Linked DNA regions of Homo sapiens. The protein of the gene in region 4 binds, or shares a complex with, the protein of the main gene of each other region. Each region holds a gene or a part of one and is shown on either strand. Other genes may lie near its edges.

Region 1 (7,023 bases), on a different chromosome or scaffold from region 4:
TACGGGAGATTTCATTCTCCAATTACATGGCTACCAAGTCATGGCAGGATTACATTTTTAATAAAGATCAAACCCTTTAGATGGTACAAATATGGATCTAATACACACCTGTACTGGGAGTGGTGGCTCCAATCACCTGCCCCGGCTGCTTGTCCATGATAACATAAGGATTATTAATAACAGAGCCGGCAGTGCCTTGCTTCACGTGGACTGGAGTGGAAGTCGGGGTTCGAGGCAATGGTGATGGGCTTGGAGTTGATATTGGGGAACCTTATTAATTAAAAAGAGAGAATACAAACAAAATACACATATTCAACTCACGTAAGAAGATGTCGAGGACAAGGAAGAAGGTCAGTGCCACCAGGACAAAGGTAACAAATTGGGAAAATAAAATGGATACTGCGTGCTCCCGGTACTGAGCAGCAACAGAGGTACAAAGGAGGCAGAGGATGTATGTTTCATGCTCTGCATCCTTATCCATGGATCAACAGCATCAGTATCATCGAGGAAATTGTAAGAAACAGATTTTATGGTCCCATCCTTGACCTACTAAACATAAATCTCACTTCAACAAGATCTCCTGGTATGCACCTTATAGTTCAGAAAGCAGTGCTTTACACAGCAGTGCAAAACTGCTGAACCTTTTTTTGTAACTGCTGAATCTTGATATGATAAATCTTTTAACACCATAGGCAGGCTTTTATAGTACTGGTTATACTCGAAGACACTAAAATTAGAGACCGGGCATGAGACACCAGGTGCAGTGGCTCGTGCCTGTAATCCCAGCACTTTGGGAGGCCGAGGCAGGCGGATCACCTGAGGTTGTGAGTTCGAGACCAGCCTGACCAACATGGAGAAACCCTGTCTCTACTAAAAATACAAAATTAGCTGGGTGTGGTGGCGCATGCCTGTAATCCCAGCTCCTCGAGAGGCTGAGGCAGGAGAATCGCTTGAACCCGGGTGGCGGAGTGAGCCGAGATCGTGCCATTGCACTCCAGCCTGGGCAACAAGAGCAAAACTCTGTCTCAAAAAAAAAAAAAAAAAAAAAAAAAAAAAGAAAGGAAGGAAGAAAATCAGTAAGTAAACAGCTAGATTTAAGAACCTGGTGTCTTGTTTTGAATAGGAAAATATGAAATTCACCTACCCAGAATAAAAGTCTCTGTCAATACTATGTCACAGCCGTAACCCAGAAAGATTCGTGTTCCCGCAAAATACTCTCAAAAGTTACTGACAGTTAAACATCCTCTACTGTCTTTTATTGATCAAACGTCATCCATGAATTTCTTTAAACTTCAAATCAATTTATATGTTCAGCCTATTCCACCTCTGAAGTAGCAAGTTCCAAAATTTTTCTACCTGGTAGGTAAAATTGCCTACCAATGACAGGGGACGGTGGCTCACGCCTGTAACCGGAGCACTTTGGGAGGCCAAGGTAGGTGGATCACCTGAGGTCAGGAGTTCAAGACCAGCCTGGCCAATATGGTGAAACTCCGTCTCTACTAAAAATACAAAATTAGCTGGGAGTGGTGACACGTGCCTGCAGTCCCAGCTACTTGGGAGGCTGAGCCAGGAGAATCACTTGAACCCGAGAGAGGTGGAGGCTGCAGTGAGCTGAGATCGCGCCATTGCACTCCAGCGTAGGTGACAAGAGTGAAACTCCATCTCAAAAAAAAAAAATTGCCTACCAATTAGAAGCTATTTATCTCTCATCAAAGATTTGGATCCTATTTCTACTTAGCTGTCTACTTACAACACCAAACATTCTTTTTTTCCCCCCTTCATTTAACTATTATACAGAAGTCCTCATACTTCCTGGTTATTTCCAATTGCCTTTTAACAAACATGTTTTGTTCTAAGGTGGAACAGTCAAAACCATATATTCCTACTAAATTTTACCTAACATAAAATGAAACTATCACAAGGCAAAAGATAATCCAATCTTAGTGAACAAGACAACTCAGAACTACCTACTGACAATAGGAATGAATAATTTTCTAGTGTGGTTACAGACAGAATAAAGCATTTCAATTCCCAACCAACTCTAACCCTTAAAATTTAACTCCATGCCAAAGGCCTCTAAATTTTTTCTATCACTAGTCACTGTGGTTTCCATGTATATAATCCCCAAACACGATTCCTACACCTTAGTTTCAGCCATATATCCTAGCAAACATTTTACCTGTGCTGATTCTGGCAGACAAAAATTTGACCATTTGAGTTTCATTTATCTCCTCCATTCATTTCCGTATGAATGAGCTTTGTTTTTGCCTTGTGACAGCTTTGCCAATCAACAGTGATAAACTTCCTTTTGTTAAACATAACACTGCTTAGAAGAACTTAAGAGAAAAAAAGCCAAGTATTTTGTTTTGTTGTTCCAACAATTTTAACATCCAGTCAACTCCACATACACTGTCTTCAAAACATCTGCATACCTGACACAATCTTGCAGCTCATGGTGATGGGCTGGAAGGATTTTCCAGGTGACTCAGGATTAGGAACCTGACTTTGTGGAACAATTTTGCAGCTTGATGCTATTGGCTGGAAAGCTGAATTGCCATGGGAACAAAAGGTAACTTTCTGGGATGTAGTCATTTTGGTGGGTGTTCTTTCCAATGAAGATGGCAAAGCATAAAACGGAGTGTGTCGTTCAGCTTCAGTGCTAGCTGGGAATCCTGCTTGAGATGAAAGAGGCAAACGGCAAGTCATCAATCGCTTTGAAATAAAACCTTACCGTTGTGGAAAAAGAATAAAAATGCATTATTTCAACACCATTTTAAACCATGTACTGGTAGCAAAATAAATACAATCAATCATCCCTTCATATTTTTGGTGAAAAATATATATGCTTAGAATAATGTTTAAAGTGCTTTTTTAAAAAAACTTGAAAACATTATTAACTATAAACCATGTATAACATAAAAAGAACAAAAGTTCTTATGTTCCTCCATTTTTTAATATATAAACTGAAAAACTGTTTAGAGAAGAAAAAATCTTAGAAAGCATTCACTAAATCTAATGATATCCTCCTATCTTATTTATTTACTTATTTTTGAGACATTATTTCACTTGTCACCCAGGCTAGAGTGCAGTGGTGTGATCTCAGCTCACTGCTACCTCCACCTCCCGGGTTCAAGCAATTCTTGTGCCTCAGCCTCCGGAATAGCTGGGATTACAGGTATGCACCACCATCCCTGGCTAATTTTTGTATTTTTAGTAGAGACGGGGTTTTGCCATGTTGGCCAGGCTGGTCTTGAACTCCTGACCTCAGGTGATCCGATGGTTTCAGCCTCCCAAAAGGCTGGGAATTACAGGCATGAGCCACCGTGCCCGGCCCCTCTTGTATCTTATTAAATGCCCATAAAAAAGATGCAATTGAAATCTAAAGAGGAATAAAGTTGAGATTTTATAAAAGAACTATAATACTAACCACATTAAAATATAGGCTTAGAAATAAAACATTTAAGATCAATTTTATATCTTTTATGCTTATATATGGGAACATTAAAATATGTATTTATACACATATATTTGTTAAATTTAAAAATGGCATGGTCAAAATACATTGTTGGTGATGAATCTTTTCTTAAGTAAAACCAGGTATTTAATATCCAAGTTTCTTGCTCGCACAATCAGAAGCTGAACCATAAAGTCTTCCTGTAATACATTATAAGGAATTATCAAGTGATAAAAATCTGTTTTAGGCCAGGCGTGGTGGGTCATGCCTGTAATCCCAGCACTTTGGGAGGCCAAGGTGGGTGGATCACCTGAGGTCATGAGTTCGAGACCAGCCTGGCCAACATGGTGAAAACCCATCTCTACTAAAAATACAAAAATTAGCCGAGAGCGGTGGTGGACGCCTGTAATCCTAGCTAACAGGGAGGCTGAGGCAGGAGAATTGCTTGAACCCAGGAGGTGGAGGTTGCAGTGAGGCGAGATCATGCCACTGCACTCCAGCCTGGGCAACAGAGCAAGACTCCATCTCAAAATAAAATAAAATAAAAATAAATTTAAAAATCTTATGTTTTTTAGCTATTTTTACATTTTATAATATGTCAGTAAAACTTCATGGAAATTTTTTTTTTTTTTTTTGAGATGGAGTCTCGCTCTGTTGTCCAGGCTGGAGTGCAGTGGTACCATCTCAGCTCACTGCAAGCTCCACCTCCCGGGTTCGAGCCATTCTCCTGCCTCAGCCTCCCGAGTAGCTGGGACTACAGGCACCCACCATCACACCCAGCTAAATTTTTGTATTTTTAGTAGAGACGGGGTTTCACCGTGTTAGTCAGGATGGTCTTAATCTCCTGACCTCATGATCCACCCGCCTTGGCCTCCCAAAGTGCTGGGATTACAGGTGTGAACCACAGCTCCCGGCCGGAAAAATATTTTTGACAAGAGTGGAAATTTGGCTTTCATAACAGAACTGTGTAGTAGAGGCAGCATGTCCACTTATAGCAAAGTTATTTTCCATATACTATAGGTCTCTGAAAGCAGCAAATGGGAAAGGAATGCCTCAGAACAACGCTATGCAAGGAAAACTGCTGTATTACCTTTCTCCACAGAGGTATCGGGTACTGGCTCATGTGACTGCTTTATTGGTGAAGAAGCTTTCACTGGGGCTGGAATGGTCAAAGGCAAAGATGGAGGGGCATCAGAGATGTCAGACTCCGAGGACTGAGGATAGATACAGTCTTCTCCGAGAGAATGGCGATGGAGTTCAACATCCACTACCTAGACAATTGGGCAACAATCAGGCTCATGAGTCCATCATCAATGTCACAGAAAGCTCAAGTCCCGTCCAAGAATGTAATCTCCGGGATGTGAGAGATAACTTCTAATCACACTTCAAAGGCAATTTCAATCTGAAGAACTAAAGGATTTATTCTAGAAGGTAATCTAATCTGGCTTAACAGACACATACCTCAGTGAAAATCTAATCTGGTTTAACATACAAATCTCAGTGAAATTATTCACAAAATTGGGACCTCTTGATTTTGCTGTTGCTACTCCTTACAACGCTATTCCTCCAAATCTTTGCATGGCTGCCTTTCTCACCAGCAGGTCTCAATGAAGTAGCACCTTCTCAGAGAGACCATGCCTAACCACCCAAGAATAAGCTACTTCCTTATCCCCCAGCTACTCTTATCTTCACAGCACTTATTTGTAACTGAAGTAATTTTATTTGCTTTTGTGTTTACTGTCTACCCTCCCCATTTTCAATGCCACTAAGAATTTGACTCTGAAGGAAGAAGCTACCGTGTTCATTTCTGTATTCCCAGCACCTGGACCAGCGCTCAATAAGTACCTTCTGATATAATACAGCAGATTTCTCTAGACAGAGTAAGATTTAATTAGTGAACTCTGATTAAATGGCTATTGCTGATTATTATATGATGAATACAAAAAAAGGGAGAGAAGGTGAAGAACAAAGTTGGAGGTCTCAGACTCCTGATTTCAAAATTTATTACAAAGCCATAGTAATCAACAGTATGCTGCTGGCATAAAGACAGACATACAGACCAATGGAACAGAATAAATCCTCACATATATGGTCAAATGATCTTTGACAAGGGTCCCAAGACCATTCAGTGGGGGAAAAGACAGTATTTTCAGCAAATGGTGCCAGGGAAACTGGATATCCATATGCCAAAGAATGCAATCGGACCCTTACCTTACACTATATACCAAAATTAACTCAGGATCAAAGAACGAAACATAAAAGCTAAAACAATAAAACTCCTAGAAGAAAATGTAAGGGAAAAGCTTCATGACACTGAATTTGGTAATGGTTTCTTGGACACGACACCAAAAGCACAGGCAACAAAATAAAAAATAGACAAACGGGACATCAAACTTAAAAACTTCTGTGCATCAAAGGACACAATCAACAGAGTGAAAAGGCAAAAATATAACACGGAATGGAAGTAAATATTTGCAAATCATCTATCTGGTAAGGGGTTACTATCCAGAATATATGAATAACTCCTGTCACTTAGCAACAACAAAAACCAAACCACCTAATTTAAAAATGGGCAAAGACATTTTCTGAATGTCTCTGAATAGACATTTCTCCAAAGAAGATAAACACATGGTCACCAAACACATGAAGGGATCCTCAACATCACTAATGATTAGAGAAACACAGATCAAAACCACAAGATATCACATCACAAACAACAGAATAACTACTATAAATTAAAATACAAAAAAAATTAACAAATGCTGGTGAAGACGTGGAGAAACTGGAATACGTGTGCACTGTTGGTGGGAATGTAAAATGGTGCGGCTACCACGAAAAAATATAGCAGTGGTTCCTCTAAAAATAGAATTACCATAGGATCCAGCCAATTCCATTTCTGGGTATATACCCAAAAGAACTGAAAGCAAGGATTTGAATAGATACCTGTACACCTACGTTCATAGCAGCACTATTAACAACAGCCAAAAGCTGGAAGCAACGCAAGTGTCCATCAGCAGGTGAACGGATAAACAAAATGTGGTATATACATACAATGCAGTATTATTCAGCCTAAAACAGGAAGAGGGGCGGGGCACAATGGCTCATGCCTATAATCCCAACACTTTGGGGGGCCAAGGCAGGCGGACAGCTTGAGCCCAGGAGTTGAAGACAAGCCTGGACAACATAGTGAGACCCTGTCTCTACAAAAAATAAACAAGTAGGCCGGGCGCGGTGGCTCATGCCTATAATCCCAGCACTTTGGGAGGCCGAGGCAGGCAGATCATGAGGTCAGGAGATCAAGACCATCCTGGCTAACACAGTGAAACCCCGTCTCTACTAAAAATACAAAAAAAAAAAAATTAGCCGGGCGTGGTGGCAGGTGCCTGTAGTCCCAGCTACTCAGGAGGCTGAGGCAGGAGAATGGCGTGAACCCGGGAGGTGGAGCTTGCAGTGAGCCGAGATCGAGCCACTGCACTCCAACCTGGGCAACAGAGCGAGACTCCATCTCAAAAAATAAATAAATAAATAAACGAGTAAGTAAATAAATTAGCTGGTCATGGTGGCACACG
Region 2 (7,023 bases), on a different chromosome or scaffold from region 4:
CCCAATTTAATGTCAGACACCAAACCACACATTCAGGAAGGTCAGCGAACACCAAGCAGAATAAATGCCAAGAAGCATATAAAATACCTCTGACCAAAAGAACAGAGTTGTCAAGTAAGACAAATGAGAACAAACACAATTTCTGTGTTTTGGATGTGCTGGAAAATAAAATAATAGAAAAAAGAAAACAAAGCTTTAAAAAGAGAAAATAAAAGACACTTAACATGCACTAATTAAAGATAAAAAACAAAGAGAAAATTCTGAAAGTTTTAGGAGATGGGAGAATAAAACAAGGAGGCCACTTAATTGATAAGAAACAAAAAAAATTTTTTTTTTTTGAGAGAGAGTCTCACCCAATCACCCACGCTGGAGTGCAGTGGCATGATCTCAGCTCACTGTAACCTCTGCCTCTCTGGTTCAAGTGATTCTCAAGCCTCAGCCTCCCAAGCAGCTGGGATTATAGGCATGCGCCACCAGGCCTGGCTAATTTTTTTATTTTTAGTAGAGACGGGGTTTCACCATATTGTCCAGGCTGGTCTCAAATTCCTGGCCTCAAGTGATCTGCCTGCCTCGACCTCCCAAAGTGCTGGGATTACAGGCATGAGCCACTGAGCCCAGTCAAAAATTTCTATTTCTTATCAGTACCGGGGTTCTCAGGAGTGACACTGTATGTAAGATGATAATGAAGTCATAATTTCAAAATATCAATGGAAAAAACTAAAATAACAATTTTATATGACTGCTATCATTTAAATGAAAAAGTGAAATGAAGATATTCTTAGTCGTATAAGTTTTCAAAATTAACCTCAAAAAGCCCATATTTTTAAAGAACTGTTAGAGAAAGCAGTCCAGCAAGAAATTAATCTAGAAAGAAACAATAGGACGAGTGAATAATTTAGTAAAGATTTATGTCATTTAAATAAGCAATACAAAAGAAAAAAAGAGATAAGTGCATGAAAATGTACTTTTTTGTTTGGGGGGACAACCACATGATATTAAAAAAAGAATAAGGAAAAATAAATGTATCTTAAGTTAGGACCTATAAAAAGAATAAAAATAGAATGTATAACTTTCTTTATGGTACAGAATGAACATCACATAAACTATTTTCTCTGATCATAATACAACATTAGAAATCACATCAATTACCAAAACATAGCTTAAAATTCTCATATATCTGAAAACCAAAAAACAACTAAATAACCTTTGGATTAAAGAGGAAATAATGAGAAAAATAACAAAATGCCAAGTACTGATTGGAAATAAAATCACATCATTTCAAAAGTCAAGAATCACAGCTAAAGCAGCACTTATTGAGAAACTTATAGCTACGAATACATTCAAAGAATAAATATAAAACAAGAGTATGGATTGAATAAATGCATTTACAGCCACTCCCTGTGTAAATACATTAAAATTTATACTAAAATTCCAAGTTAAGACTGGGTTAAAACACAAGCATATAAAGCTTTACTACTTCCCAAAATCCCACTAAAACTATAGAAGCTGACTTAATTAGAACAGTAACTGGTAAACAGATGGACAAATAGTAACTGATTTAACACCAAAATCCCAAAGTGGCTTTGGGTAAGCTAAATGAGAACTAACCCAATCTATACTACAGAACCCGCTAAAATCCAGGCAGCAGCCAGCAGATTCCTCTGGAACTGGGACCAAATGGGACAATAAAATAAGGAGCAGGCAAACACCATGTGGAAAGCAGTATGATCCCCAGATCCTTCCACTCCCTGTTGCTGGGTGGCTGCCCTCCCCCAGAAGCCAGGAGGTCTGATCTCTAGAGAACTAACAGGGGATCCAGCTGGAGGGCTGAGGTGTGAGTACCTGACAAGCTGAATGCTAAGGTCCCTCTTCCCCAACTTGGCAACCAGCATCCTGAGCCCAGAAGATTATTCCCCAGGGACTCTGACTAGATTCAAAGAAAAAACCTAAAGGAAGTGCAGTGGTCCTCAACAGAGGTCTCACCTAGACAATGTGGCTGTGTATGGAATTCCAGGTTCAACCTCACTTAATGAGGGTCTTTTCAGTATGTTGGTCTCAAATTTTACTTCCCATGCAGCTTTTCTCAGGAAGTCATTAAGAACAAGGGAATAAACCTATAACAAGGTAAAGATGGGCCACAGGAAACAGGAGATCAAATACAGAGGAGGGCAAAAGAATCTCCAGAGAGGGGAGATCCCAACACCCCTGCTGAGTTTCACAACAAAGGGTGAACAAGTGTGACCCAAGGGGCAGACATAGTGTAGAAAGTAAAAAGTTTCCTCTTCAAAGTTTTCCTTCTTGTTAAAGAATAAATCATAAGTGTTAGAAATAACAGTTTCTTTTAAAGACTAACTTTCTTCAAGTCTCCTTGCCTTGTGCTAATAACTCTTTGTTAAGCCCTATCCTCTGTAACCGTTGGACATGCTCACAGGCACGTTCCAGCCCACAGTCTACGCCCCTTCCTTATTTGGAAATGTTATTGCTTCCTTAAACCTTTTGTAAGCAACTTCTTTGTTCTTCCCTGCACTTACCTATTTAGGAAAGTTTTAGGCTATTAGCAAATCGGGTATCAGTTTAAGATTGTGAGGTCCCGCTCCAGCCAGTGGATGCAGGACACAGCAGTAAGGACGACCCAAGTGCGTAAGGGATAAATATGTCTGCTTTTCCTGTGTTCAAGTGTGCTCTCACCTTTGTTCCATCTGCAACTGAGCACCCTTTCTACAGAAAGAAAAGATGGCCTTGCTGAGATACCTTTTGTCTCTGTGCTGACTTTTCTTCGCAGCACCGATTATCTATTTCTAACAATTTTGGTATTTCTAACACATATTGAGGCTATCATCCTTAAGTCCTTGCTGCCACTGACCATCTTTTAAACCTATGGCGTCGTGGCCCAGAATCTTATCTACGCTCAGCTTGTCTTCACCATGTACAGGTGAGCCTCCTGTACACCACCCATGCCCACCCCAAAGACCAGCTGATGATGCTCACTCCACAAATAACTGCTTTGACCTTCTGCAAGCTGGAAGGAAGCTGTCAGCTCAGGCAGGAAATACAGAGGATCCCACTTCCTCTGCCCAGATTTCTGCCGCATCTCTGGTATACATCACAGCCCTGGCTGATGCATACGCTATGGTGAGCCTCATGTTTCCCAGGACTCCCTAGTGACCTTGGCCAGTGACTACCTCAGAAGGGGTTCATGGAAGCCGAAGCCAGAACATCACTGTAAGTATTAGTTTCCCAGGGCTGTAGGAACAAAGCACCACAAACTGGGTGGCTTAAAACAACAGGAATTTATTGTCTCACAGTTCTAGAGGCCAAATGTCAGAAGTCACAGTGTGGGCAGGGCTATGCTCTCTGGGGTACGCACTAGGGGAGAATTTGTTCTGTGCCCTTCTCTTAGCTCCTGGTGCTGCCGGCAATCCTTGGTGGTCTTGGCTAATTATATTTGCAAAGGGCCTATTTCCAGATAAGGCTGCATTCATAGGTACCAGGGTTGGGACTTCAACATATGCTTAAGGGGGACACAATTCAGTCCACAACAATGACCCAGAATGACTATTTAGCTTATCTTCTCCAGGAAACTTCATCTAATAGTGGCAATTTACTTACACAGCTAGATTTATGCTTGCTACTCAGTATTTTTTTAAACGAAAAGTATATCATTTAGAGACATACACATTTAAAAAGCAAAAGAATAATTAACACTGTAAGTCAAAGTGGCTTCCTCTGAGGGGAACAGAAAGTACACAGGAGACTTCTAAGGTGTTTACAACACTCTTTATCCAGGAGATGAATACATGGGCATTTATTTTACTAATATCTAAATTATACCATATTTCTATGCTGCCTTCTATCTGTATGACACATCTTACAATTTAAAAAATTAAGTATAGGCAGTAAACAGACAGGCCCACAAGAATAAGAACAAAGAACAGGTGAATATTGGCCAGGCGCAATGGCTCATGCCTGTAATCCCAGCACTTTGGGAGGCTGAGGCGATCACTCGAGCCCAGGAGTTTGAGATCAGTCTGGGCAAGATAGTAGGACCCTGTCTCTACTAAAAATAAAAATTAAAAAAAAAATTAGCTGAGTGTGGTAGTGTGTGCCTATAGTACCAGCTACTTGGGAAGCTGAGGTGGGAGAATTGCTTGAGCCTGAGAGTTCGGGGCTGCAATGAGCTGTGGTTGTGCCACTACATTCCAACCTGCGTGACAGAGAGAGACCATGTCTCAAAAAAAAAAAAAAAAAGAACAAGAACAAGTGAATAGATGACTAACAAAAGCATATGAACAAGCAGCAAATGACTTAACAGACCAAAGAAAGCCAATACCTAAGCCAGTGGTGAAGCTAAGCAGGGTGATTTACAAAACACAGCCTCAGGGAAGTGTAGTCACCTAAGGCATCAGGCTTAGAGCCTGGGGGGTATGACTATGGATTGTGAGGCTCTTTAAGAGGTTAAAGGCTCCAATTATACCCCTATAGTAATTATACTGCCCACATCTAGGAAATGATCTTTCCCTCCACGGGCAGAAGACTGGAGAGGCTCAAGAGGGAGATTCTGGACACAGGAAGCCAAGGGTGGGAGTACTGTACTGAAGACAGGGAGAGTCAGTTTACCTCCTAAACGATGGGCTCCTGGGCCCTCCCGACTTGGCTCCTGGTAGGCAGGCCAGTTAATACTGTGCTTCCCAGGAAAGATGGGAATTAGGAAAAAAAAGAAAAGAGGATCTATCTGGAGTAGGGATCTTGGTAAACTATAGCCCCCAGGCTAAATCCAGTCCACTGCCCATTTTAGTAGATAAAGTTTTACTGGAACACAGCCACACTCATTCACTACGGCTCTCCAATCACAACAGCAGAGTTGAAGAGTTCCGAATGAGATTTTGTGGCCGGCAAAGCCTAAAATAATTACTATCTGGCAGAAATACTTATTTCTTTACAGATAAAGTTTGCCAACTTTTAATCTACAGGGTCCAATATCCAAATAATGGGGAGTTCTAAAATGAGAGAACAGAAAAAATAGAAGATAGGAAATCAAGACTTTTCCATACTCAGGAAAGAAAGTTTCAAATTGAAAGGGCCCACACACCACATGTCCAGCACAAGGAAAGACATAAGCCCTACATACGGCACATCACTGAATAATACCAGAACACCAGCAATGAAGAGCAGATCCCACTAGCTTCCAGAGAAGAGAGAAAAACATGCAGACTCCAAACAGGCAATTCACAAAGAAACAACCAGGAAATTTAACCTCACCTGTAACCAAAGAAATATAAATAAAAAACAAGATTTCACTTTACAGCCAGCCAATTAGCAAAACTTAAAGGCTGGTTAGTGTCAAGTGCTAGCAAAGATAAAGGGAATAAGGCCTCTTGTTCCTCCCAGTGGGAGAGTATATACAGGTAGTTCTAAGTGGAATTAATTGTTCCCAGAAGCATCCACAAAATTTGGGTTCCACCGACCATCCTTTGAGCAACACTGATACCACACTGATCCCTTGGCTGCTATTTCTTCATGTTGTCCTTCGCAGATGTCTACACACCTTCAGATCCTCTGCAACACAGTGTCAGAGACACCGTCATGGCCTCAACAAATTTGTCAAAGCTACGACACAAACCATGCATATCTATCCTCAGAGAGAGAGAGACAAGAGAGACAGATGAAGAAAACTTATAGGTTATGTTTGAATGCCTAAAGGAAAAGAAAAACTCAGATGTATTCAGGTGTACTTACAATGAACAATTCTGAAAAATAAAGCCCAGCGATTTTTGTATTTTTTTCCCTTGCACTTTACTTTTCTCTTCCCAAATTACTCAGGATTTAAAAGGTCACAGCATAACCATGTCCAATGCCTAGTGCTGCCTGCCCCACCTCCACTCCTGCCCCCAAGGGCTTTACAGCAAGTGCTTGCATTCACCTGGTATCGGTCAAGGATTCTGAAGTCCTGACAGGTGGTTCTGTACGTGGCTTGTCCAGCTGGAAGTCTGGAAATTCCTCCTTCTTTGGCTCCATAAATCCCGTCAACTAACAAAAGAGCAGCATTAACAACTTGATCCAAGTCAAAAAGTGGTAATCCCCTATCCCTTTTCGCTTGTCTGACAATCAGTTTGCGTTTCAGTCTCCGAGCTTCCGGAGTCATGGCAACAGCACCGGGACAAGCTTCCAGCCTCTTGAGCAGCAGCTTTTCCTCGTAGATGCTCACGGGAGTATACCTGGGCTCTTTCGGCTTTGTGTCCTTCTCCAGCTGAGGCTTCCTCTTTTCTCTAGCCCTTGTTTGCAAAGATGTGTTTGAATCTGTGTCTTCACTGTCAATATCCATCCTGTCGGGTTTTTCCTCCTCACTCTCTACCTCCTGCTTTATCTGTTCAGGGCCTCTGACCTTCTTTCTGACCCCAACCACTGGCCCAGAAGCTACTGACCCAGCAGGGGGTGGGACGTACTCCATCCCTGGGTCTATGACTCCATCGCCTTCCATCTCATCGTCATCTGTGCAGAGTACAAAACAGTGTCATCAAGACATAGGAAGGAAGAAATGCAGAGCACACAGCCCACGGGGTGAAAACTTGTACATTTATACCATGGCCCATACCCAAAATAAAAGAGCAAAGCAAACAAACTCTTACCATGAAACAAGGCTTGTGGGGGCATCACATCTGGAATCAGATCTGCTTCTGAAAGCAAGCTAGGTGTGGCAGAATGAGAGGCAGGTGTACCAGGGGCAGAGAAATCCAGAGAAGGAGAAGGAGATGGGCTTGTCAGCGGGGTGCGGTCAGAGGAGCTCAAGGAGGAAAAGTCAATCACTTCGCCTTTTTCCAGAATCACATCTGGCCTGCGGCCTCGGCTTATGAATTTTACAGGGGTAGAAGATGTGCTCCTGTCAAGAAAGCCAGCGGCCTCCTTCTGGGCTCTTCTAATGTCTTTTGCTTCCTGAGTTCGAGACCTTTTCTCTTTTAATTCCATGGCAGATTCCACAGGATTCCGACTTGCTCGTTTTCTAAGTCCCTCAACAGTAATGATGGG
Region 3 (7,583 bases), on a different chromosome or scaffold from region 4:
ACAAATGCACTTTTCCCCCTCCCAAACAGCTAAGAAGCTTCCCAAGAACGAGCCCCAGAATGCAACTGGTGCTCCAGGCCGAAACCGAGGTGTGGACCTCCAGGAGAACAACCCAGCCAGCCGGAGCCAGTGCTGCAGCAACTGAGCCCCCCTTGCCTGCCCGCTGCCCCCGCCTCCTCCGCCTGAATGACCCGACTGGAATCCACTCTAACCAATCGCACTTAACGACTCGGGCCACCACTGGGGGGGCAGGGGGAGGGGTCCACCATGATTTCTCCATATAATTTTGATCATAGGCCGGAGTGAGTCATTCCACCTGCACCTTTCTGTACAAATACTAATTCAATTTTAAGTCTTAAGTCACTTTTTTAATATATATGATCTTCTGCTCTTCCCACTTCCTCCCCTTTCTACTGCTCTCCCATTTTCCCTTGCTGGGAGTAGCCACATGCTCTTGCCCCCCAACCCTTGTATATGGGGACAGTGGGGTCAGTGCAGCTACCCTTTCTTTCCCTCCTGCGGAACAGCGGACCCAGCAAGAGCATCCACATCCTCACTTTGTTCGGAGTGGTCTTTGGTTTGGGCGGTGGGGCAGACCTTGGGAAGGGGCTTAGGAAGGGAGAGGCAGCTCTTCCTTCAGCTGGCTCTCATCAGGCTGCAGCCCCCTCCCCGCTCCCACCTCCCTGCTGGGAAACCACAGCATTATCACAGCATTATTGTGACAGCCACGAACCCATTGCCCACAACCCCTCCACCCTCGGTCACCCCAACCTCTGGCTCTGAGCCCTGTTCTGACCAAATCATGATGATGAGTATTTGGGGGTGGGTGGGTAAGGGGGGGAGTGGGAGGGGACGGAACCAACTTTTTCTGTATTTTGTATTGTATGTTTTCTTCAACATGTAACCAATCAGTATCTTGTCAATATAGTCAGCCGATCGATCGACCTCACAATTGTCTTCCTTGTCTTTCTCTGGCAGTTTATCAGACAGTGCCCTCTGTAGTTGAAGTTGATTTAAAATGAACCACTGAATCTTGTTAAACAAAATCTTCCCCTCTAATGTGAGGGGATGCTGGTGGTCATGGTAACCAAGAGAAAGAGGCTCTTACTGTTAGCAGCTCCGATGAGGTAGCTGACCTGGGCTGACCAAGTTTGAAGTTTCAGGGCCCGTGTTCACTTCTCCACCTCCCTTCCCCTCCCCCACCTACCAGATCATACTGGGGTGACATGCAGTGTGTATTTGATGATCATTAGTCTCTGAAACACCAGAAACAACCTCTTTGGGTTTTTTTTGGTTGGTCTTTACCAGTGAGAGGGTCTGGATCCTCTCTCTTCCTGAAGAGGAAGGAATCCCAACAGCCCCTGGAACGCTGGACTGGTCTTAAGGCCAAGACTGTAGCCACTGGCTTTCCTCACCACCTCTGTCCACGTCACCCCCCCACACCACATCCAAGTTGCCCCAGTCCAGCTCTCTACTGGTTCTGGAATCAGGTCTGGGCACTCAGCTCTCTGCTGCTACCTGTTGGAGCTGCTGCTCAGCTAGGGCCACACTCTCCTCCAATTTCTCCCAGGGCCACAGAGGCCTGATTCCCTTTTTTTTTTTTTTTCTTTTTTTGAGACGGAGTCTCTGTTACCCAGGCTGGAGTGCAGTGGTGCTATCTCAACTCACTGCAGCCTCCACCTCCTGGGTTCAAGCGATTCTTCTGCCTTAGCCTCCCAAGTAGCTGGAATTACGGGCACCCGCCACCACGCCCTGCTAATTTTTGTATTTTTAGTAGAGACAGGGTTTCACCATGTTGGCCAGGCTTGTCTCAAACTCCTGGCCTCAAGTGATCCACCCGCCTCAGCCTCCCAAAGTGCTGGGATTACAGGCGTGAGCTACCACAGTCGGCTTTTTTTTTTTTTTTTTTTTTTTTTTTTTGAAACGGAGTCTCACTCTATTGCCCAGGCTGGAGTGCAGTGGCACGATCTCGGCTCACTGCAAGCTCTGCCTCCCGGGTTCACGCCATTCTCCTGCCTCAGCCTCCCGAGTAGCTGGGACTACGGGCGCCCACCACCACGCCCGGCTAATTTTTTTGTATTTTTAGTAGAGACGGGGTTTTACCGTGTTAGCCAGGATGGTCTCGATCTCCTGACCTTGTGATTCGCCCGCCTCGGCCTCCCAAAGTGCTGGGATTACAGGCGTGAGCCACCGCGCCCAGCATTTTTTTTTTTTTTTTTTTTTTTTTTTTTTGAGACAGAGTCTCACTCTGTGGCCCAGGCTGGAGTGCAGTGGCAGGATCTTGGCTCACTGCAACCTCCCTCCACCTCCCAGGTTCAAACGATTCTCTTGCTCAGCCTCCCGAGCAGCTGGGATTACAAGCACACACCACCACGCCTAATTTTTGTGTTTTTAGTAGAGATGGGGTTTCACCATGTTGGCCAGGCTGGTCTCGAACTCCTGGCCTCAAGTGATCTGCCCGCAGAGGCCTGATTCTTGGTGGACCACCACCTTGAGGGTGCCTTTCCTGCCTCCTGTGCCTCCAGTCCCTCTACCTCTGACTTCCATCCCCAGAAAAGACAACGGACACCAAGGCTGCTGCACATCGCGTCGTTTGTTTACCGGGTCAGGTTGGAAGCCTTAGAGCCGAGGCTCCCGAGTCTCGGGGACGGTCCTGTTTGGGCTTCAGGGAGGGCCAGCGCCACACACTGGCCTCTGACCCACAGCTGCCCGGAGGGGGTCAGGCAGCAGGTCATGGCGGTAGGACTCAGGTTGGACGGGAGCATTTTCCGGTGCACCTTCTGTGACATGCGGTAACTGACCCTTTCCGGGTCCCTGACGTCCAGTTGCTGCTGTCCGGTCACCATCAGCCATTGGCCATCCACCTGCACCACCAGTTCCTCCGGGGCGAAGCCGTGGGCATCCAGCTTCATTTGGAAACCGTCTCTGGCATGGTCATTGTCCTCCTGAGCCGCTGGACTGTCCCTGAGCAGCCGCACCGGCATTGTGGCCACCCGGTTCCGTTCAGCAAGGCCCACGCTGGGACACCGGGATGCCACCCGGCTCTCGTTGGAGAAGGTGTTACCGACTCTCTGCATCCGAGTCAGCAACTAACTGCTGTCAAAGGGCGCGAGGCTCCCAGCGCAGAGCTAGGCGCACGGACGCCCGGAGAGGAGGGACCTCGCGCGGCCTACCCGAGCTCAGCTCCGCTCGCTCGGTTCCCTTCGCTTCTGCAAACGCAGGCGGAGTTCGGGATCAGCCACGCCCATCTTACCTCCAAGAGCCAGACTGTCAGCGCCCTGGCGCGCCCGCAGCTGCTCTCCTCCCAGACTCCGACCCTTTCTCCGCCCTTCCCCACCTTCGTTAATGGACCCGGGGAGGCCGCAGCTGTGAAGGAACTGGATCCACGACCAGGCCAGACCCGAGGGAGCCGCACCCTGGCGCAGCCAACAGCAGATTGATCCCCCAGCTGGAAGGGGGCTGTCTTGCCTTCTAAGGACCAGGCCTGGGGCAAGGATTGTTCCTAGACAGAGCCAGGGGAGGGCGGCCTTCCTGGGTCATCCACCCTACCTCTCCCTGACCACCCACAACCCCACGCGGACACGCGACACGAGGAGGTGGACTGGTCTCTCCGGCTGCATTAATTCTTCCCGGGGCGTCCTGTGCTGCAGGCTGTGGTCTGGGCTCTGGGGCCACAAAGATGAAGACGCAGTTGGGGCTTCAGGAGAGTGGCTCCCAGTGCACAGAGAAAGACCTAGCCCTCCTCCGCCTCACCCTCCACGTCAGTAGCCTTCTTGGTGACCATCATAACCACAGCTATGCCTCTGGTGCTGTTATTTGATAATTTTTTTTTTTTAAGAGACAGGGTATCATTATGTTGCCCAGGTTAATCTCGAACTCCTGGGCTCAAGCGATCCTCCCATCTCGGCCTCCCAAAGTGCTGAGATTACAGGCGTGAGCCACCTCGCCCAGCCTATAAACTTTATTTTTTATTTTTTTGTAGAGATTGGTGGGGGGGGTCTCCCAATGTTGCCCAGCCTGGTCTCGAACTCCTGCAGGGCTCAAGCTCTCCTCCCGCGTGAGCCAGCCACCCGGCCTGATAAACTCCTTTTTGTTGAGTGATACTATTAAATACATACATACTGAAAAGCGCAGAAAAAGGTGCAGGTGAATGTCAGGAGGAGAACACACCCAAGTCACCACCACACTACTGCAGAACTGTTGCTACATCTCATCTCTACCGCAGCTGCAATTCCGTGTCCGGAGCCGCGTGGGGCAGGGCCTGTGCGGGAGTTGGGGGAGGGGGTTAAGTGGGAGACAGGCGCGTGAAAGAGGCAGACCCCACGATTCTCCCCAAGACTCCTTGTCCCCAAGAGGACAGCCATCGTGACTCTCCCGGACTCCATTAAAAGAGATTACAAGTGAAGAGGGGTCAATGTGGGGCCTTCACTCAGGCCTCACTTGGCTGTCAGGGGCCAAGAGACAGGACAGAAAAGTCTGGAAGCTGGAGGCAGTGAGGGGAAGGCGCGGGAAGACTACAACTCCCGTCATGCGCCGCGCAGCAACGCCTGCGCACTGAGCGCTGGTTGCCCATGCGGCCCTAGGGCTGGGAGCGCGGCGCCGCTCTCCGCTGCGGGGGAGGCCATGGCGGAACCTTCCCAGGCCCCGACCCCGGCCCCGGCTGCGCAGCCCCGGCCCCTTCAGTCCCCAGCCCCTGCCCCAACTCCGACTCCTGCACCCAGCCCGGCTTCAGCCCCGATTCCGACTCCCACCCCGGCACCAGCCCCTGCCCCAGCTGCAGCCCCAGCCGGCAGCACAGGGACTGGGGGGCCCGGGGTAGGAAGTGGGGGGGCCGGGAGCGGGGGGGATCCGGCTCGACCTGGCCTGAGCCAGCAGCAGCGCGCCAGTCAGAGGAAGGCGCAAGTCCGGGGGCTGCCGCGCGCCAAGAAGCTTGAGAAGCTAGGGGTCTTCTCGGCTTGCAAGGTGGGGGCGGGGCCTGGGGTGAAGGGGCGGGGCTTGGGGCATCCCAGGGCTCTGGTGGGAATGGGGTCAAAGCTCTGGCTGCGGAGCGGCTCTTGCCCCAGAGGTATAGGTCATTGACTGATCCTTCCACCTCCAGGCCAATGAAACCTGTAAGTGTAATGGCTGGAAAAACCCCAAGCCCCCCACTGCACCCCGCATGGATCTGCAGCAGCCAGCTGCCAACCTGAGTGAGCTGTGCCGCAGTTGTGAGCACCCCTTGGGTAAGGCAGGCAGCGCCCTTGGAGCTGGGGGCAGGTGCTGGGTCCTGCTTGGACAGGGTGACAAGTGCCACAAAGCTTCATCTCTGAAAAAATCAAAGATGCCTCGAAGGAGGGATTGGGTTGGGGGGGGGTGTGCACCAAGGGGGGAGAAAGGAAATCTCTCAGCCCAGAACAGGCCCAGGCAACCCAACGGTTGATATCGGAGCAGTCAGTCTCACTGTTGGTCACACTGGTTGGAGGAACAGAGTGTGTATCTTGCTTGGCTGTGAAGAGGGTCAAGAAGCCTTGTTGATTTCTTCTATCAATTTTTCCTAACTCTGCCATCTGTCTTGCAGCTGACCACGTATCCCACTTGGAGAATGTGTCAGAGGATGAGATAAACCGACTGCTGGGGATGGTGGTGGATGTGGAGAATCTCTTCATGTCTGTTCACAAGGAAGAGGACACAGACACCAAGCAGGTCTATTTCTACCTCTTCAAGGTGAGCTTCCACTAAAGGAGGGTGTGAGTGAAGGAGGTGGGGCCTTGAGGGGTTGTCTGCAGCTCTGCCCCCCTCCCCTCTATGCCCCCTTCCTCTTCTCTCTAGCTACTGCGGAAATGCATCCTGCAGATGACCCGGCCTGTGGTGGAGGGGTCCCTGGGCAGCCCTCCATTTGAGAAACCTAATATTGAGCAGGTGAGATAGGGGAATTGGAGATAGCGGATAGGAGAATTGGGGACAGCTTGGAGGAGTGGGGAGCCTGTGTTCTCCATTCTCCTCAAGCTGAGAACACTGGGGAGGTTCAGAGAAGGAAGGGTGTTTTGTGCTAACCTCAGGGTGGGCATGGTGGTAGGGAGGGGGCAGAGCTTTTCTATAGAGAGCACCCGAGAGAGAGAGGAGAAGGAGAACCTTGTCCCTGGCCAGGGAGCATCTTCCTTTGTCTAAGAAGGCCCTGCGGGCTGCTCACACCTCATTCCTGGTTTTATCCCCCACCCACCCCTTCTCAGGGTGTGCTGAACTTTGTGCAGTACAAGTTTAGTCACCTGGCTCCCCGGGAGCGGCAGACGATGTTCGAGCTCTCAAAGATGTTCTTGCTCTGCCTTAACTACTGGAAGCTTGAGACACCTGCCCAGTTTCGGCAGAGGTCTCAGGCTGAGGACGTGGCTACCTACAAGGTCAATTACACCAGGTAGGCCCAGCCAGGGGCAGCTTCGGGGGAGGCTTGCAGGCCCAGCCTGGGTTCAGTGGTTTCCGCCCTCACCTGTCTCCCCCTCGACCCCCTACTCCAGATGGCTCTGTTACTGCCACGTGCCCCAGAGCTGTGATAGCCTCCCCCGCTACGAAACCACTCATGTCTTTGGGCGAAGCCTTCTCCGGTCCATTTTCACCGTTACCCGCCGGCAGCTGCTGGAAAAGTTCCGAGTGGAGAAGGACAAATTGGTGCCCGAGAAGAGGACCCTCATCCTCACTCACTTCCCCAAGTAAGGCTCCTTCTGGCCTACCAGGATTTGGCCCCAAGTTCACATCCTCCCTGTTGTCCCCTTTTTTCCAGGAAGGCTTCCTGGATTGGTCCCTCCTCTCCCTCCATGGGCCTTTTGGGATCTGGGCGTCTACCTGGCAGACTTGCCCATGGCCCAGAAGCAACTTGCTAGTACTAGTCTGGGGATGGCAGGTACATAGCCCAAGCTAACGCTGCCCCCACCCGACCCTACGCCCCAGTAGATGTTACTAATTGTTTCCCATGGGGGCCTGGACACAGCCTCAGACTCCTTCCCTGCACAACTCTCCAAGAAACCAGACCTTAAGCTTGAAGTGAAACCAATTTCTACTCCTGTTCTGGTCTTTTCTGTACCATTTTCTTCTGTTCGGCCACACCTTTTAAAATCTAGGCCATAACTCCCCTGTTCAAAAAACCCTGACTGACTAATCCTGGCTCTCTAGTGCCCCCTGCCATCAGGTGGGAACAAGAGATGGCAAGGTGGGGTGGAGTCTGAGCCCATTTTGATACTGAGGGCAGTGAGGGGGCTCAGGGTGACAAGGTGCCCTGCCTGGCCACACAGCACAGGATGACATCAGCTCAGACCTGTCTCCCTGTGCCACACAGCGTGGTGAAACTGAGCCTGTTTGATCTCTGTCCTGGATGTGTCCTGTCCTCTTACCTTCAATTGGAGGCTCCCAGAAGACAGGGGCTGTCCCCTCTCTCAGGTCCCCAGTTCCCTAAGAGCAGGGTCTGTCTCTGACCAGCCTCCAGTCCCTCTGCTGCCTGGCCCAGGCTGCACCCTGGAGAACAGAGTTGTGGGACAGACTGTGTCCTCCCTACAGATTCCTGTCCATGCTGGAGGAGGAGATCTATGGGGCAAACTCTCCAATCTGGGAGTCAG
Region 4 (7,023 bases):
GCTCTTCCTGTAAGGAAAAGAGCAGCAGGACATGACGGTGGCCCTTTGTGCTGCTGTGGTACCCTGCCAGCCAGGCCAGAGTCCCCATCCCCAAAATACGGCCCTCATTTTCTTTTTTTTTTTTTTTTTTTGAGATGGAGTCTCACTCTGTCGCCCAGGCTGGAGTGTAGTGGCACGATCTCGGCTCACTGCAAGCTCCGCCTCCCGGGTTCACGCCTTTCTCCTGCCTCAGCCTCCCGAGTAGCTGGGACTACAGGCGCCCGCCACCACGCCTGGTTAATTTTTTGTAGTTTTAGAAGAGACGGAGTTTCACCGTCTTAGCCAGGATGGTCTCGATCTCCTGACCTCGTGATCCGCCTGCCTCGGCCTCCCAAAGTGCTGGGATTACAGGCGTAAGCCAATGCGCCCGGCCTAATTTTTTGTATTTTTAGTAGAGACAGGGTTTCGCCATCTTGGCCAGGCTGGTCTTGAACTCCTGACCTCGTGATCCACCTGCCTCGGTTTCCCAAAGTGCTGGAATTACAGGCAAGGGCGCCCGGCTATGGCCCTCATTTTCTAAATCCAAATTCAGGAGTTCAAGATGATTTTCTCCTTTGACTAATGCAAAAGCATTATAAAAGGCCTTAAAGGGCCTGGTGCAGTGGCTTAAGCCTGTAATCCCAGCACTTTGGAAGGCCAAAGTGGGCAGATCACTTGAGATCAGGAGTTCAAGACCAGCCTGGCCAACATGATGAAACCCCACCTCTACTAAAAATACAAAAATTAGCCGGGCATTGTAGCATGTGCGTATAGTCCTAGCTACTCGGGAGGCTGAGGTTGCAGTGAGCTGAGATCATGTCACTGCACTCCAGCCTGGGTGACAGAGTGAGACTGTTAAAAAAAAAAAAAAAAGAAGGCATTAAAGTTAAATCATAAGTGATATCTTTAATGATAGTCCTTTATCAAAGAGACAAATCAATCTATACAGTCAACGCAATCCCCATCAAAATTCTAATTGACTTCTTTGCAGAAATTGACAAGTTCATCCTAAAATTCATATGGAAATTCACGGGACCCAGATTATCCCCAATCTTGGAAAAAGAAAAAAAAAGTTGGAGAACTCATACTTCCCAATTTCAAAATTTATTACGAAGCTACGGTAATCACGATGGTGTGGTACTGGCATATAGATCAACAGAACAGAATTCAGAGTCCAGAAATAGACACATACAGGTATGATCAATTGATGTGGAGAAGAAGGGGTGGGGAAGAATGCTGGTGCAATTCCTCCCATATCAGTCATCCTGGGAGCAGAGCTGCAACTGCAGATGCTGGAAACTGAGACAGATCCTAAGAAAGAAATTATGACTATGCTTTTTAGCCTTTATGTGAGAATTTTTAAGTGCCTGATGGGTGGGTTGCGCCTTTACCTCAACCTGCAAAATGAGGTTAACAGTGAACACAGCTAGCTAGCTGCCTAGTGCTCAAGACAGCCAATAGTCCATACCTGTGTAACCCCACCCTATATAAATGGGAATGGATTGGGGTTGGGGGGGGATACTTGCTAGACTAGTACTGCTGCCGCTGCAATCTGGACCAGGTACAGTGGCCAAAGCTAACATCCCTTACAAAGGTGGAAAAGTTTGGGTGAAAACCAATCACAAATGGAGAGGAGAAACAGTAGCCGAGTTAACAGAACAAATTAAATGGGTTATGCAATGAGGGAAATCCAATATTGTACTCATACCTCAAGAGAGGCTGAGAGAGAGAGAATGCCATCTCTTAGGTCAGTTACACTGGGTGCCTGAAAGGGCGAAGCCCTGTGTCTGTCAGGACCACGCCTGCTTTTGGAAGCTGACGGGTGAGATGGGAGTCTGGGAACTCGGCAGCAGCTGTCTGAGGGACACCCTGGTTGTATGGGATGATGATAAACTGTTCTAACTGTGGATGACTGAATGGAATGCGTAATCTGCCTGTATCTTTTTTTTCCTTTATTTATTTTTTTGAGACGGAGTTTCGCTCTTGTCGCCCAGGCTGGAGTGCAGTGGTGCGATCTTGGCTCACTGCAACCTCCACTTCCCAGGTTCAAGCGATTCTCCTGCCTCAGCCTCCCTAGTAGCTGGGATTACAAGCATGTACCACCACGCCCGGCTAATTTTTAGTAGAGATGGAGTTTCGCCATTTGGCCAGACTGGTCTCAAACTCCTGACCTCAGGTGATCCACCCGCCTCAGCCTCCCAACATGCTGGGATTACAGGCATGAGTTACCACGCCCAGCCCTTTTTTCCTTTATTTTACAATGTATTTTATTGATAAACTCTTCTTAGAGCAGTTTTGGTTTACAGAAAAGCTGAGCTGATGGCACAGAGTTCCTGTATGTATACCTGCTCTGCCCTGCGCAGTCTCCCCTATTGTTAACATCTTGCATTAGAGTGGTGCGTTTGTAACAACTGATGAGCCAATACTGTTAGATAATTAACTACATCCATCCCCATGATGGTTTACTCTGTGTGTTCTGCCGTTCTATGGGTTTGGACAACGCATCATGTTGCGTGCCCCCCATCATGGTACCCTGCAGAAGAGTTCCACCCCCTAAAATCCTCTGTGCTCCACCTATCCATCCCTTTCATCCTATCTCTCCCAAGGCCCTGGCTACCGCTCATCCTTTCACTCTCTAGTTTTGCTTTTCGTTTACAGTTGGAATACACAGCACGTAACCTTTCAGACTGGCATCTTTCACTTAGCAATGAGTGCCGGCATCTTCTGACTCTTACTCTCCAGGTTACGTCTAAAAGGAATACCATTTGGGAAGGAATTTCTGGGATCTACTCCTTCCTGGCTGTGCGGTGCACAACTGCCAGCAAACTGATCCTTGTGTAGCTATAAACCCTGAGTATCGTGGGCAAAATGTGGCAGAGCATGCCCGATAGCCTGCAGTGAGCTACAGGCACCAATACGCATCTCCCTTGTATCTGTGAAAGAAAAGATATCAAATAGGGGAAAAATGGCTTTTTTTTTTTTTGAGATGGAGTCTTGCTTTGTCACCCAGGCTGGAGTGCAGTGGCGCCATCTCGGCTCACTGCAACCTCTGCCTCCCGAGTTCAAGTGATTCTCCTGCCTCAGCCTCCCCAGTAGCTGGGATTATAGGCATCCGCCACCAAGCCTAGCTAATTTTTGTATTTTTAGTAGAGACAGCCAACATGGCAAAACCCCGTCTCTACTAAAAATACAAAAACAATTAGCCGGACATGGTGGTGTGTGCCTGTAATCCCAGCTACTAGGGAGACTGAGGCAGAAGAATCGCTTGAACCCAGGAGGCAGAGGTTGCAGTGAGCTGAGATCGCGCCACCGCACTCCAGCCTAGGTGACACAGTGAGACTCCGTCTCCAAAAAAAAAAGAGTGTTTTTGTTTGCCTGGATTAATAGGGTGGAAGGAAAAGATATGGGGCATTTTTGTTGGGTGTTAAAAATGTTCTGAAATTGATCGTGCTAATGGTTGCACAATTTTGTGAGCTGCGAAAAACCACTGGATTATACACTTTAAATGGGTGCGTTGTATGGCATGTGAATTCTATCTCAGGATAGCTGTCAAACAAAATGAATCATGAAATCCTGTACATGGTAGAAAATCCAACAGGAATGGTAGCCATACACCAAATTCCCCTCCTTTCACTTTTATTACGTCATTTTGGTTCCTGCGAGTCCAATCTCTCTGAACACAAATGCCACCCCCACTTCACGGCTCAGCATCAAAGCCCATGTTCCCATCTGGGAATGGAGGGTGGTGACTTTTTACCTGGGTTTGTTTGATCAGCTGATGGAGCTCTGTGAGAAGTTCTGCAATGCGGGAATCGGCAGACACGAGGGCCATTGTCTACAGGGGCACCTGGTGGGGGAGCGAGGACAGAAGAGAACTCTGTTAGTGGCTGCTGTGGGCTGAACTGTGCCCCCTCAAAAGATACATTAGGCCTGGAGGCTCATGCTGTAATCCCAGCACTTTGGGAGGCCAAGGCGGGAGGATTGCTTGAGGCCAGGAGTTCAAGACCAGCCTGGGCAACACGGAGACCCCGTCTTTACAAAAAAATTAAAAACTTAGCCCGGCATAGTGGCACACATCTGTAGTCCCAGCTATTCGAGAAGCTAAGGTGAGTGGATCGCTAGGCCCTAGGGGGTTGAGGCTGCATGAGCTACGATCGTGCCATTGCACTCCAGCCTACATGACAGTGTGACACCCTATCCCTTTAAAAGATAGTAATAATAAAAAGATACATTGTAGTCCTAACCATGGTACCTGTAATGTCACCTTGTTTGGAATTAGGGTCTTTGGAGAAGTATTTAAGATGTCACTAAGATGAAGTCATAGTGGAATAGGGTGTGCCCTTAATCCAGACACACAGCCAGGTGCAGACAGAAGCAGCGACTGGACTTGGACAGCTGCAAGCCAGGGGATGCCAAGGACTGCCGGCAGCCACCCATCCAGCCGGGAGAGATGCGCGGAGTAACGGCCCCGTCTAAGCCTCCAAGAAGCAACAATCCCTTGTCTTTGGAACCAAGCTGACATCTTGATTTTGGAATTATGGCCCCTAGAACTGTGATGGAATAAATTTCTCTTGTCTTAAGCCACCCAGCTTGCAGTAACTTGTTATGGCAGCCATAAGAAATGAATACAGTGGCAAGCTATCCTTGGATTCTCCTCCACCCTATTGATATGTTTGAATGTCATATGTTCGACGAAGTCAAGGAGTCAAGGAGTGTATAATTTTTGTATATAAATACAAAAATTAATATGAAGTGCCTTAAAAAGATAGCATGCCCTTAGCCCCTGCTCTGCTGCCAATATCCTGACAAATGATTCAAACATTTCTGGTATCCATATTTTAATCTGTAAAATGGGGATCATCTCTGCTATATTTTGGGAGATTCAAATAAGATTTTATATGAAGACACTTTCCAAGTCATAAAACGCTGTTACTTTCTTACTATAGTGGGAAGATAATTTTTTTTTTTTTGAGACGGGAGTCTTGCCCTGTCACCTAGGCTGGAGTGCAGTGGTGTGATCTTGGCTCACTGCAATCTCTGCCTCCCAGGTTCAAGCAATTCTCCTGCCTCAGCCTCCTGAGTAGCTGAGATTACAGGTGTGTGCCACCATGTCCAGCTAATTTTTGTATTTTTAGTAGAGATGGGGTTTCACCATGTTGGCCAGGCTGGTCTCAAACTCCTGACCTCAGGTGATCTGCTTGCTTCAGTCTCCCACAGTGCTGGGATTACAGGCGTGAGCCACCACGCCCAGCCAGCATGGGGAGAGAAACTACTGTAAAATATCTCAATCAAGATGAATGTACTCTGATGAAAATAAAATGCTTCTGTACAATAAAAGATAATTAGGGCCGGGCGTGGTGGCTCATGCCTGTAATCCCAGCACTTTGGGAGGCCGAGGAGGGCAGATCATGAGGTCAAGAGATCAAGACCATCCTGGCCAACATGGTGAAACCTTGTCTCTACTAAAAATACAAAAATTAGCTGGGCATGGTGGTGGGCACCTGTAGTCCCAGCTACTCAGGAAGCTGAGGCAGGAGAATTGCTTGAACCCGGGAGATGGAGGTTGCAGTGCGCCGAGATCACGCCACTGCACTCCAGCCTGGCGACAGAGTGAGACTCCGTCTCAAAAAAAAAAAAAAAAAAAGATAATTAGAACAAGAGTAAAAAGACAACCAAAAGTAATCAAGAGTGTAAGTTACAAGTAGGTGAAAATAGACATATGCCTCAAGATAAAGGTATATTTGATAAAATAAGGGGATATTTTTTACAGTGCTAAAATTTTGCACAATAGCCTGCATCTTACAAAGTTTGTTCAAGCTGGGGGCAGTGACTAACACCTGTAATCCCAGCACTTTGGGAGGCGAAGGTAGGAGGATGGTTTGAGTCCAGGAGCTCGAGATCAGCCTGGACAATACAGCAAGACCCTGTCTCTATTTTTATTTTTTATTTATTTATTTTTTGAGATAGAGTCTTGCTCTGTCGCCCAGGCTAGAGTGCAGCGGTGCGATCTCTGCTCACTGCAACCTCGGCATCCTGGGTTCAAGCGATTCACCTGCCTCAGCCTCCAGAGTAGCTGGGATTACAGGCACCCGCCACCTTGCCTGGCTAATTTTTTGTATTTTTAGTAGAGACGGGGTTTCACCATCTTGGCCAGGCTGGTCTCAAACTCCTGACCTCGTGATCCACCCACCTCGCCCTCTTTTTTTTTTTTTTTTTTAAAGTTGTTCAACTAACACATCCTCCTACTCACAGAGATCAGATTCACGATGAATGGAGTAAACTCTTCCCCCCACTTAATCAACTGCGAACCTCTCGCCATGTATTTATTCATATCTTCTTACATGCTCTGCTGCTGCTATTTAAAAGTATAATAACATACAAACTAGGAATAGAGGGTAACCTCCTCAACCTGATGAAGGGCATCTATGAAAAACCCACAACGAACATCAGACTTAAAGGCGAAAGATTAAAAGCTTTCCCCTAAGTCAGGAACAAGATGAGCATGGGCCCTTGTCATTTCTAGTCAACATTGTTCTGGAGGCTCTCGCCAGGGCAATGAGGCAATAAGATGAAATAAAAGGCATCCACATTGGAAAGGAAGAAGTACAACTATTTCTATTTGCAGATGACATGACCTTGTATATAGAAAACCCTAAGGAATCCATTAAACAACTATTAGGACTAAGACAAGGTTAGAACTCATAGCAAAGTTGCAGGATACGAGATCAATAAACAAAACTCAATTGTGGCCAGGCCCCAGAGGCTCACGCCTGTAATCCCAGCACTTTGGGAGGCTGAGGCGGGAGGATCACTTGCAGCCAGGGGTCCAGACGAGCCTAGGCCACCAGACGAGCCTGAGCCCCACTTCTACTTTATAAATTTTTTAACTTTAAAAAAAGAAAGCTACAGTAATCAAGATGTTGTAAGCAAAGACATCTAGTTCAATGGAATAGAACTGAGAAACCAGAAATGGTCGACTAATTTTCAACAAGGGTGTCAAGACAA

What was found.
Region 1: SGF29 (region 4) and YEATS2 share a complex: the UniProt entries of both Homo sapiens proteins name them as parts of the ADA2A-containing complex.
Region 2: SGF29 (region 4) and KAT14 share a complex: the UniProt entries of both Homo sapiens proteins name them as parts of the ADA2A-containing complex.
Region 3: SGF29 (region 4) and KAT2A share a complex: the UniProt entries of both Homo sapiens proteins name them as parts of the ADA2A-containing complex.

What each region holds. Positions count from the first base shown.
Region 1 is NC_000003.12:183,749,775-183,756,797, reverse strand, and holds part of YEATS2 (YEATS domain-containing protein 2), read right to left. Parts: intron 4,726-7,023; coding exon 4,545-4,725; intron 2,676-4,544; coding exon of another isoform or gene 2,673-2,675; coding exon 2,433-2,672; intron 271-2,432; coding exon 109-270; intron 1-108. UniProt on the Homo sapiens protein: Chromatin reader component of the ATAC complex, a complex with histone acetyltransferase activity on histones H3 and H4. YEATS2 specifically recognizes and binds histone H3 crotonylated at 'Lys-27' (H3K27cr).
Region 2 is NC_000020.11:18,161,843-18,168,865, reverse strand, and holds part of KAT14 (cysteine-rich protein 2-binding protein), read right to left. Parts: coding exon 6,627-7,023; intron 6,490-6,626; coding exon 5,921-6,489; intron 1-5,920. UniProt on the Homo sapiens protein: Component of the ATAC complex, a complex with histone acetyltransferase activity on histones H3 and H4. May function as a scaffold for the ATAC complex to promote ATAC complex stability. Has also weak histone acetyltransferase activity toward histone H4.
Region 3 is NC_000017.11:42,118,345-42,125,927, reverse strand, and holds the start of KAT2A (histone acetyltransferase KAT2A), read left to right. Parts: upstream 1-4,560; 5' UTR 4,561-4,623; coding exon 4,624-4,962; intron 4,963-5,098; coding exon 5,099-5,222; intron 5,223-5,557; coding exon 5,558-5,703; intron 5,704-5,808; coding exon 5,809-5,898; intron 5,899-6,209; coding exon 6,210-6,391; intron 6,392-6,491; coding exon 6,492-6,683; intron 6,684-6,686; exon of another isoform or gene 6,687-6,874; intron 6,875-7,524; coding exon 7,525-7,583. Other genes in the region: RAB5C (ras-related protein Rab-5C), read left to right, coding at 30-145; HSPB9 (heat shock protein beta-9), read right to left, coding at 2,598-3,077. UniProt on the Homo sapiens protein: Protein lysine acyltransferase that can act as a acetyltransferase, glutaryltransferase, succinyltransferase or malonyltransferase, depending on the context.
Region 4 is NC_000016.10:28,577,897-28,584,919, reverse strand, and holds part of SGF29 (SAGA-associated factor 29), read right to left. Parts: intron 3,866-7,023; 5' UTR 3,851-3,865; coding exon 3,776-3,850; intron 8-3,775; coding exon 1-7. UniProt on the Homo sapiens protein: Chromatin reader component of some histone acetyltransferase (HAT) SAGA-type complexes like the TFTC-HAT, ATAC or STAGA complexes.